Homo sapiens: one gene and its partner. The protein of the gene in region 2 purifies or fractionates together with the protein of the main gene of each other region. This does not show direct contact. Each region holds a gene or a part of one and is shown on either strand. Other genes may lie near its edges. The genes, in order: GNA12 and DRD5.

Region 1 (3,809 bases), on a different chromosome or scaffold from region 2:
AATGAATGAATGAGTGAAGAAGGGGAGAAACAAGCAGACTGGGCTTTGAGGCCCAAATTTCTCACAGTGATTACCAAGATGATGTGGCCTCAGGCACAGCATAACTGGTACGGGCTTACTTCCATGTCGTGACAATACAAGGGCTTGACTTCCTAAATTGGGAGGTCCCTTCCAGCACTGACACCCTGCACTGACGGAACAGGGCAAAGACAGAAGCCTGTCAAAGCTGCTGCACCATGCCGAATCCCAGACAGAAGCCTCACTCAGTACGATCAGCCCCAGACACTTCTGCTTCCTTCTTTGGAAAATCCTCAATTTCCATCCAAGTTCTAAATGAATGAGAATCTTCTTTCCCAGACTCTGTGAGTGTATGGGGAAAAGGTGTAAACCTCAATTTCACATTGAGATACTGACATGTATTTCCCAATTGTTTCTTCCAGCCCTGCTCTTTAGGAGATTAAAATTTCCTTTCTACCGCAACCACATCTTCCACTCTCTTTTGATTCTTTTACCTTAACTGTTAAAGTTAACTTGAGAAGGAATGTGCAGATGGAAAGGGGCTAGTAAAAACGTCATCCTTAAGATGCCCTGGAGGACATTAACATTTACAGGCAAAAGCCTGAGGAGAAACAGGCTATTTGCAGGGTCTCAATGTATCTCCCTAAGATATGTGTTAACAACACAGAGAAAATACTGACTTCCCAGTGGAGAAAGGTGGCCAACAGTGCCTCAACCAAGCAACCCAGGCTTGCATCACCAGCCACTGGACAATATCACGCACTTCCTGATCAGATGATCTGAGCAGGGCTCAACGGCACGCCTGCGGTTTCTGTGCCAAAAAAATGCATCCCCTCATCCTGATGACGAGAAAATACCAGACAAACCCAAACAGGAAGATTCTACACAATACCTGGCCAGTGCTCTGGACATGTCAAGGTCATGAAAGGCAAGGAAAGATCAAGGAGCTATCATGGACTGCAAGAGACCAAGGGGACACAATGACTAAACACAATGGGGGATTCCAGGCCAGGATCCAGCAGACAGGAGCGCGAGAGGAAGCAGCGGACAGGACGCGAGAGGAAGCAGCGGACAGGACGCGAGAGGAAGCAGCGGACAGGAGCGCAAGAGGAAAGGTGGGTCACATTCAGACAAGGTCTACAGTTAATTGATGCTTTCATACCGATGTCAACTTCTTAGTTTTAATAGTTGTATAGTGGTTAAGATGTTAACATTAGGGGGACTTGGGAGAAGAATATAAGGAAATTGAACTGAGGGGACTATTAGCAGACTATATAGCACCTCTCAGATGATTGAGAAAAATAAAAATTACTCTGCAGGAAAAGGATGGGTAAAAGATATGAATAGGGTGGGGCATGGTGGCTCACACCTGAAATCCCAGCACTTTGGGAGGCCGAGGCGGGTGGATCACCTGAGGCCAGGAGTTCGAGACCAGCCTGGCCAACATGGTAAAACTCCATCTCCACTAAAAAATATAAAAATTAGCTGGTGTGGTGGTGGGTGCCTACAGTCTCTGCTACTCGGGAGGCTGAGGTGGGAGAATCACTTGAATCCAGAGGTGGAGGTTGCAGTGAGCTGAGATGGCGCCACTGCACTCCAGGCTGGGCAACAGCGCGAGACTCCATCTCAAAAAAAAAAAAAAAAAGGAAAAAAAAAGACGTTTCCAATAGCAAAATATGAAAAACAGTTCAAAAGTACCTCAATGAAAGAAGGAATGGATCCTAGTATCTTTCCACAGTGGAGCATCAGACAGCAGTGAAAAGGGAAGAACCGCTGCTATGTGCCTCGCCTGATGAAATTCCAACATGTGGAGTGAAAAAGGCAAGTCACAGAAGCATATATACTATACACTAAGAAATGACTTATATGAAGGTTAAGAATCAGTAAAACTCAAGACTGTCGTGTTTACAAATAATAAATGGGTATTATGGCAAAATCATAAGAACGGCAAAGGATTCATGACTTCAACTTGACTCTGGGTGCTAAGGGGGCAAACGGCTGTGAGAGTGAGAGGCATTTCTGGATACCCTGGGTGTGTATTAATATCAGCTGTGCACATTTATGCTGGTTATCAGAAAAATTGTACATTTTACTTTATATACGGTTAATTTTGAAAGGTAGAAAAAAACAAAAAGCAAACAGGCAAAACCCCCCAGATTTTCTGGTTATAGATTCAGACCCCAAATGAATCTAAATAACTGGGCTTTGTGAAGTTTTTAGACCTTAAAACGAAAGGAACAAATCTGAAGGGAACAACTGGGAGGAGTTGGATTTGCTTCCGAGGCGCTGATCTGAAGGCGTTCGTGAGTTGCCCATACCCACAGGTCCAAAGTGGGAAGCTGTTGTGGGGGGTGTTATTTCCTACTATGAACAAGATCTCTAAAAAAAACTAAATTTCTCGGGTTGTGCCAATGCTGATGATTCTAAGAACCCTCCGTATTCCCAGAAGAAAGCTATTGATCTTACCTGAGTGGCTCTTGCTCCTTCCCCTCTTGAGCCTTTTATATAGCATCTGCCTCCATCCCGTGTTTTGGTTGTTGATCATTACAACTTACGGTGATTTAGAGCTTGCTTGGACTGTTACACAGTTTTTAAGGAAATTCAACTAACGGTCCAAAATAGTCATGTAAAAAACACACTATCAGGTGCCCAGCAAGAAGGCCTACTCACTCACCAGCTGAAACTCGCTTCTCCGGCTGAAAGCCTCCCTGATGCCAGAATCCCTCCAGAGTGCGCTCAGGGCCGGGACGTACAGCTGGAAGGTGGCCGGCTCCACAGGCAGCCCCGCCTTGTTCTCGAAGGCCATCAGGAACATCCCATGCTTCTCATTTTCAGAATACTGCCAAGGAATGCCAAGCTTATCTCGTGCATCAACAAGAACCCTTGAGCCCTAGAAAATAAAAGAAAGAAGAGAGGATTTAATTGCATTCCAAAGACTAAACCACGCTAGAGAAGCTCAAAATGGGCATCCATTGTCATAACGCAGAAAACTCACAAGCTCTGAGCTGTGCAGCCTGAGTCTGTCTCTTGGTTTGTTTGTTGTGATGTGGAAAGTCTTAACTCTCAGCAGTATAACCTCACCAAGACAGACGCACATGGCCGAGAGCAGTGGCTCACACTGTGAGCCTCCCCTTTGGGAGGCCAAAGAGGGAGGACTGCTGGAACACAGGAGTCTGAGACCGGCCTGGGCAACAGAGCAAGACCCTGCTTCTACAAAAAATTAAATCAAATTAAAAACAGCTGGGCTTGGTGGTGGCACACCTGTAGTCTCAGCTGAGCGGGGAGGATTGCTTGAGCCCAGGAGGTCAAGGCTACGGTTATCTATGATTGCTGCACTATATTCTAGGCTGGGCAACAGAGCAAGACCCTGTTTCAAAAAAAAAAAAAGAAAAGAAAAAAGAAAAAAAAGAAAACAGATGTACATAAGCACCACAGAAAGAAGTCTGCTTTCTGCTATCATTCATTTGCAAAGCTACTGGAAAAAAGACAACTGGGCGGGGAGGAGGTGGCAACAATTTCAGAAAATTTCACTGGAAAATGAAGTGTATCAGTAAAAAAACAACTTTTTTTTTTTTTTTTTTCTTAGATGGAGTTTCACTCTTTTTGCCCTGGCCTGGAGTGCAATGGAGTGATCTCGGCTCACTGCAACCTCCGCCTCCCAGGTTCAAGCAATTCTCCTGCCTCAGCCTCCTAAGTAGCTAGGATTACAGGTACCTGCCACCAGGCCCGGCTAATTTTTTATTTTTAGCTGAGATTACAGACCACCACGGACTGCTAATTTTTGTATTTTT
Region 2 (4,286 bases):
AATAAAACACTCCCCTTGGCTGTGCACACTGCAGAGAGGAAAAACAAAATGATTGGAGTCAGCCGGGCTTTTCTATTGAGCACCTCGACCTACAGATTTTCCAATTTCAAGTTCATTCACATTTCATCTCTGGCTTCTACATTTTACTTAAAAAGCATTTCCCTATTTGCTATTGTCCACTAAGGAAAATGCCTATTTAAAAATAGAGTTTCTTTTTTAAAGCATCTTGATTCACACATTTCAAAGCTCTTCAGAAAACACGATTTCTCAAAAGCCATGTCATTCTAAAACATGCTACAGTTGTCAGATGGAGAAAGATTCAAGATATTATTCTACATGATCTTTTCAATGAACTGATCGCATCTGTCTAGGAATAAGGAGAGTTGTCTTATGTTACTTCAAAAAAGATTCCATATGAGAAAAAAAACATCTGGTCTTGAGAAGATCTAATGCCATGCCATTGAAGCCAGGTTTCAGCACAGACCCAACATGGGTATAAGTAATAAAAAGAAACCTGAGAAAACAGAAGCTCCTCAAGGTCCTTTGCCCTGGTGTATCTTTAAGGCCAAACTGTAAAGAGATTAAGCATGTACTTCCAGACCCAGCAAATATCTTCTTTGCATTTTAAGGATGCACTCATCGTTTCTTCAGAAGCAATCCTGAAACCCAATGTAGCAAAGCAAAGATAGTCACCCCATAATACAAATAATCTGTGTTTATTAGACACCAGAATAAATCAGGGATACTTCTTAAGCTATGGTAAAGAGGCCCCCACCAGCACAGAGAGAAGAAATGACATAAGCACAAAGCCACGGGAATCCAGACCCAGGAAAGCTGTGCTCCCACCACATCACTGCACACACACACAACCTGCTGTTTAAAAATCAATTCAAACACAAACAAGTGACTGAACAAGCCATTTGTTTAAAAAGGGAGGGGAGAGCATATTTTTTAAGGACCAAGTATCATTTTTTTTTTTAAGGACCCAGCACCATACTCTCTTCTCTCATAGGATCGTTGGTCCATCTCTGGTAGGCTGGGTACATTTGACTGAGTTTATTGCAACTGCTTCTGCCAATTCTTCGAACTACCAATCAATGGGGTGAGGTTTCTAAGCACACGAGCTACTACACAGAAACACATGATAAAGGGAGCAGCACTGGAAAGGCATGTATTTGCGTGTGTGTGCGTGCTTGTCAATGTCTGTGCGGTTATGCAGATCCATGAGGGGGTTTCTTAATGCAGTTTAATGGAATCCATTCGGGGTGAAAGGTGTTATTTTGTCTAAAGAAATCTCCCCCTCGCAGTCCAGCTCCCAGACAGACTCAGCAACAGGGTCACCATCTGGGGACGTCTGATAGATCTGGAACATGCGATCGAAAGGACCCTCCTCCTCGTCGTTGTCCACCTCCCGGTTGCCGGGGGTAACGGCGTTGGGCATCATGTGGATGTAGGCAGCTGCGATTTCCTTGTGGAAGACGATGTCTTGGTTGTAGGAGATGAGCTCATTGCTGATGTTCACCGTCTCCACCGGCGTGCGGGAGCAGAAGTGGCTGCACCCCAGCAGCTGGGCAAACACCTTCTGAAAGTCGGCGTTGAAGGCATAGATGACGGGGTTGAGTGAGGAGTTAGCCCAGCCGAACCAGACGAAGACGTCGAAGGTGGTCTCACTGACGCAGGGGAAGCCGGCCGGAGGGCCTTCGGGGTGTCCACTGCAGAAAGGGACCATGCAGTTAAGGATGAAGAAGGGCAGCCAGCAACACACGAAGACCCCCATGATCACCGACAGGGTCTTGAGAACCTTGGTCTCCTTCTTGATGGAAGCGCGCAGGCTGGTGTCGGGCGCGCAGGCTGCGCTGCTCCGGCAGCTCTGCGCGTGCTCTGCGGCCCTCTCCAGGGAGGAAATCCTGCGGATCTGCACCTGGGCGATGCGGTAGATGCGCGTGTAGGTCACGATCATGATGGCAACGGGGATGTAGAAGCTGATGAGCGAGGAAGAGATGGCGTAGGTTCGATTCAGGCTGGAGTCACAGTTCTCTGCATTCACGTCGGGCTCCCAAAAGTCCTCCTCCCAGGGCGTCCAGTTGGCCAGGTTGTTTGGCAGGTCCAGCCCGCCCCAAGAGGCCGCCTGGTCCCTGTGCCAGTTGAGCTGGACCGGAATGAAGGAGATGAGGATGGACAAGGTCCATGCCAGGCCGACCATGACCAAGGCCATGCGCTGAGTCATCTTGCGCTTGTAGCGGAAGGGCCTGGAGATGGCCCAGTAGCGGTCCACGCTGATGACGCACAGGTTCAGGATGGAGGCAGTGGAGCACATGATGTCGAAGGCCACCCAGACGTCGCAGAACGCTCCAAAGGGCCAGTAACCGGCCACCTCGGCGACTGCCTTCCAGGGCATGACCAGCAGCGCCACGAAAAGGTCTGACACGGCCAGAGACACGATGAAGACGTTGGTCATGTTGGCGCGCAGGTGGCGGCTCCGCACGATGGCTGCGCACACCAGCACGTTGCCCAGCAGGGTCCAGATGATGAGTAGGGTCAGCAGGCAGGCGGTGACCACCTGTGAGGGCCCCAGTGGCGGTGCCCCCGCCGAGCCCCCCACGGCGTTCCCCTGCGCCAGCTGCTGGTATAGAGCGAACTGCCCCGGGTACGCGGTGCCGTTGCTGCCTGGCGGCAGCATTTCGGGCTGGACTGCAGGGGCGGTCTGTGCGCGGTCCCAACTTCAGCCCTGCGACCCCCAGGCAGCCCCATCGGGCACCCCGAGGATGCGCCCCCTCAGCCAAGGGACCCTCGAGCCCCAGAGGGCGCTCACCATGAGCTGCGCCGGGCTGCGGAGCGCGCGGGGACTTCTCTTGCCTCCTGAAGCGCCTCTGGCTCCATGGCCGTGGTGCGCCCCTCCAGTCTCCGCGATGGGGACAGGAAGCGGCTGGTGCTCGCTGACAGCCAGGGCTGTTCTCGGGAGTCTGTAGCGCGCCGGACGGCAGCGGCAGCGGCTGTGTCTGGTTCGGAGCGAGAGAAGAGAGCAAGCCGCCACTGAGGGGCTGGGGCAGGCAGTCGCGGGCGCCAGGCTGGCACTGAGGCGCTGCCGCGGTCCCTGGCCGCTCCCAGGCCCCGCGTCCCGCCCCCCGAGCCTCCGCGCTCGACTCCCGCCCCACCTGTGCCTTGGCGCCCTCGCTCACCGCCCTCAGCGCGCCAGAGTGTAGGGGCGATCCCGCAGGTCCGAGGGGCGCCCCAGCGCCAGACCCTAGTCCCCGGGCCGGGGAAAATTCTCCCCGGGAAAACCGAAGGGTGCTTGGCGCATCCCTGGAGCCTTAGCCCTGGCCACGCTTGGGGAACAAGAGGTGGGGTAAGGATGAGGACGCGAGGGCTTCCGGAGGGGGAAAGAGCATTTGAAGGGTAAGCGGGGCAGCCTTGGATTACCCACAGACCCGAGTCCCAATCCGGACTTTATTCCTGGCTCTGCGACTTTAAGGGCCCTACATAACTTTACCCGGCCTTGGTTTCCTTCTCCACAGCGTGGGATAATGATTCCTACTCCTGGGACAGTGTCAGAACTCATGGAAGCCGTCTAGGATGAGGTGTCCAGTAGACAGTGTCTCCTAGGAACAGGCTCCCGCTTCCCCCAGCCCCTCTCTCAACACCCTGAGGCTGGGGCTTCAGCTGACCTCTTGGGAGATTGTCCTTTTCCCCACCACCGCCCCCAGTCCTTGAACGATTTTTCCTTTGGGGAATAATTCGGAATGAACTCAGAAGACAAGAGGAGGAAGAGAGCCCCCCACCCCCATAGAGTTGGAGGCCTCTTCTTTGCAGGGCACTTTTACAGCCTTTCTCTTTTTCAACCTTGAGAGGGATGGATAAATAGCTCAGTGTTTAACAGAAAAGGAACTGACGGGGCCCAAAACCCAAACTGAAAAAAAAGAATGATGGAAAACAATAAAGAGGGAAAACAGTGTTCCTGAGCTCTGAGTGCACCTCCCAGCTGACAAGTTGCATTTGTGAAGTGTTTCGGCCTCTACTGGCGTTAAGCTCAGCTGAAGGCAGCTGGGAGAGAAAGGGATGTGACAGCAGCCAGCTGCATAGCTCCGGCTGCGACCTGCTGGCCCAGACACCTGCAGCATGGTGAGGTCTAGAAACAGACTGGACTTTCTCCTCCCTTCCTAGTCTCCCCCTCCACCAAACGCACCTGTACCCTGGACCAACATCTGCAAGTGGCCCACCTTCTCAGACTTAAGCTGCTCAGCCTACACAGTCCCTTCCCCCAACCTCCTTCCCCCTCAGTGCTTTTT

The links.
Region 1: the proteins of DRD5 (region 2) and GNA12 purify together in Homo sapiens (affinity purification with western blotting, with the first as the bait; one study listed by BioGRID). This does not show direct contact.

What each region holds. Positions count from the first base shown.
Region 1 is NC_000007.14:2,792,236-2,796,044, forward strand, and holds part of GNA12 (guanine nucleotide-binding protein subunit alpha-12), read right to left. Parts: intron 2,909-3,809; coding exon 2,693-2,908; intron 1-2,692. UniProt on the Homo sapiens protein: Guanine nucleotide-binding proteins (G proteins) are involved as modulators or transducers in various transmembrane signaling systems. Activates effector molecule RhoA by binding and activating RhoGEFs (ARHGEF12/LARG).
Region 2 is NC_000004.12:9,780,424-9,784,709, reverse strand, and holds DRD5 (D(1B) dopamine receptor), read right to left. Parts: upstream 3,077-4,286; 5' UTR 2,681-3,076; coding exon 1,247-2,680; 3' UTR 701-1,246; downstream 1-700. UniProt on the Homo sapiens protein: Dopamine receptor whose activity is mediated by G proteins which activate adenylyl cyclase.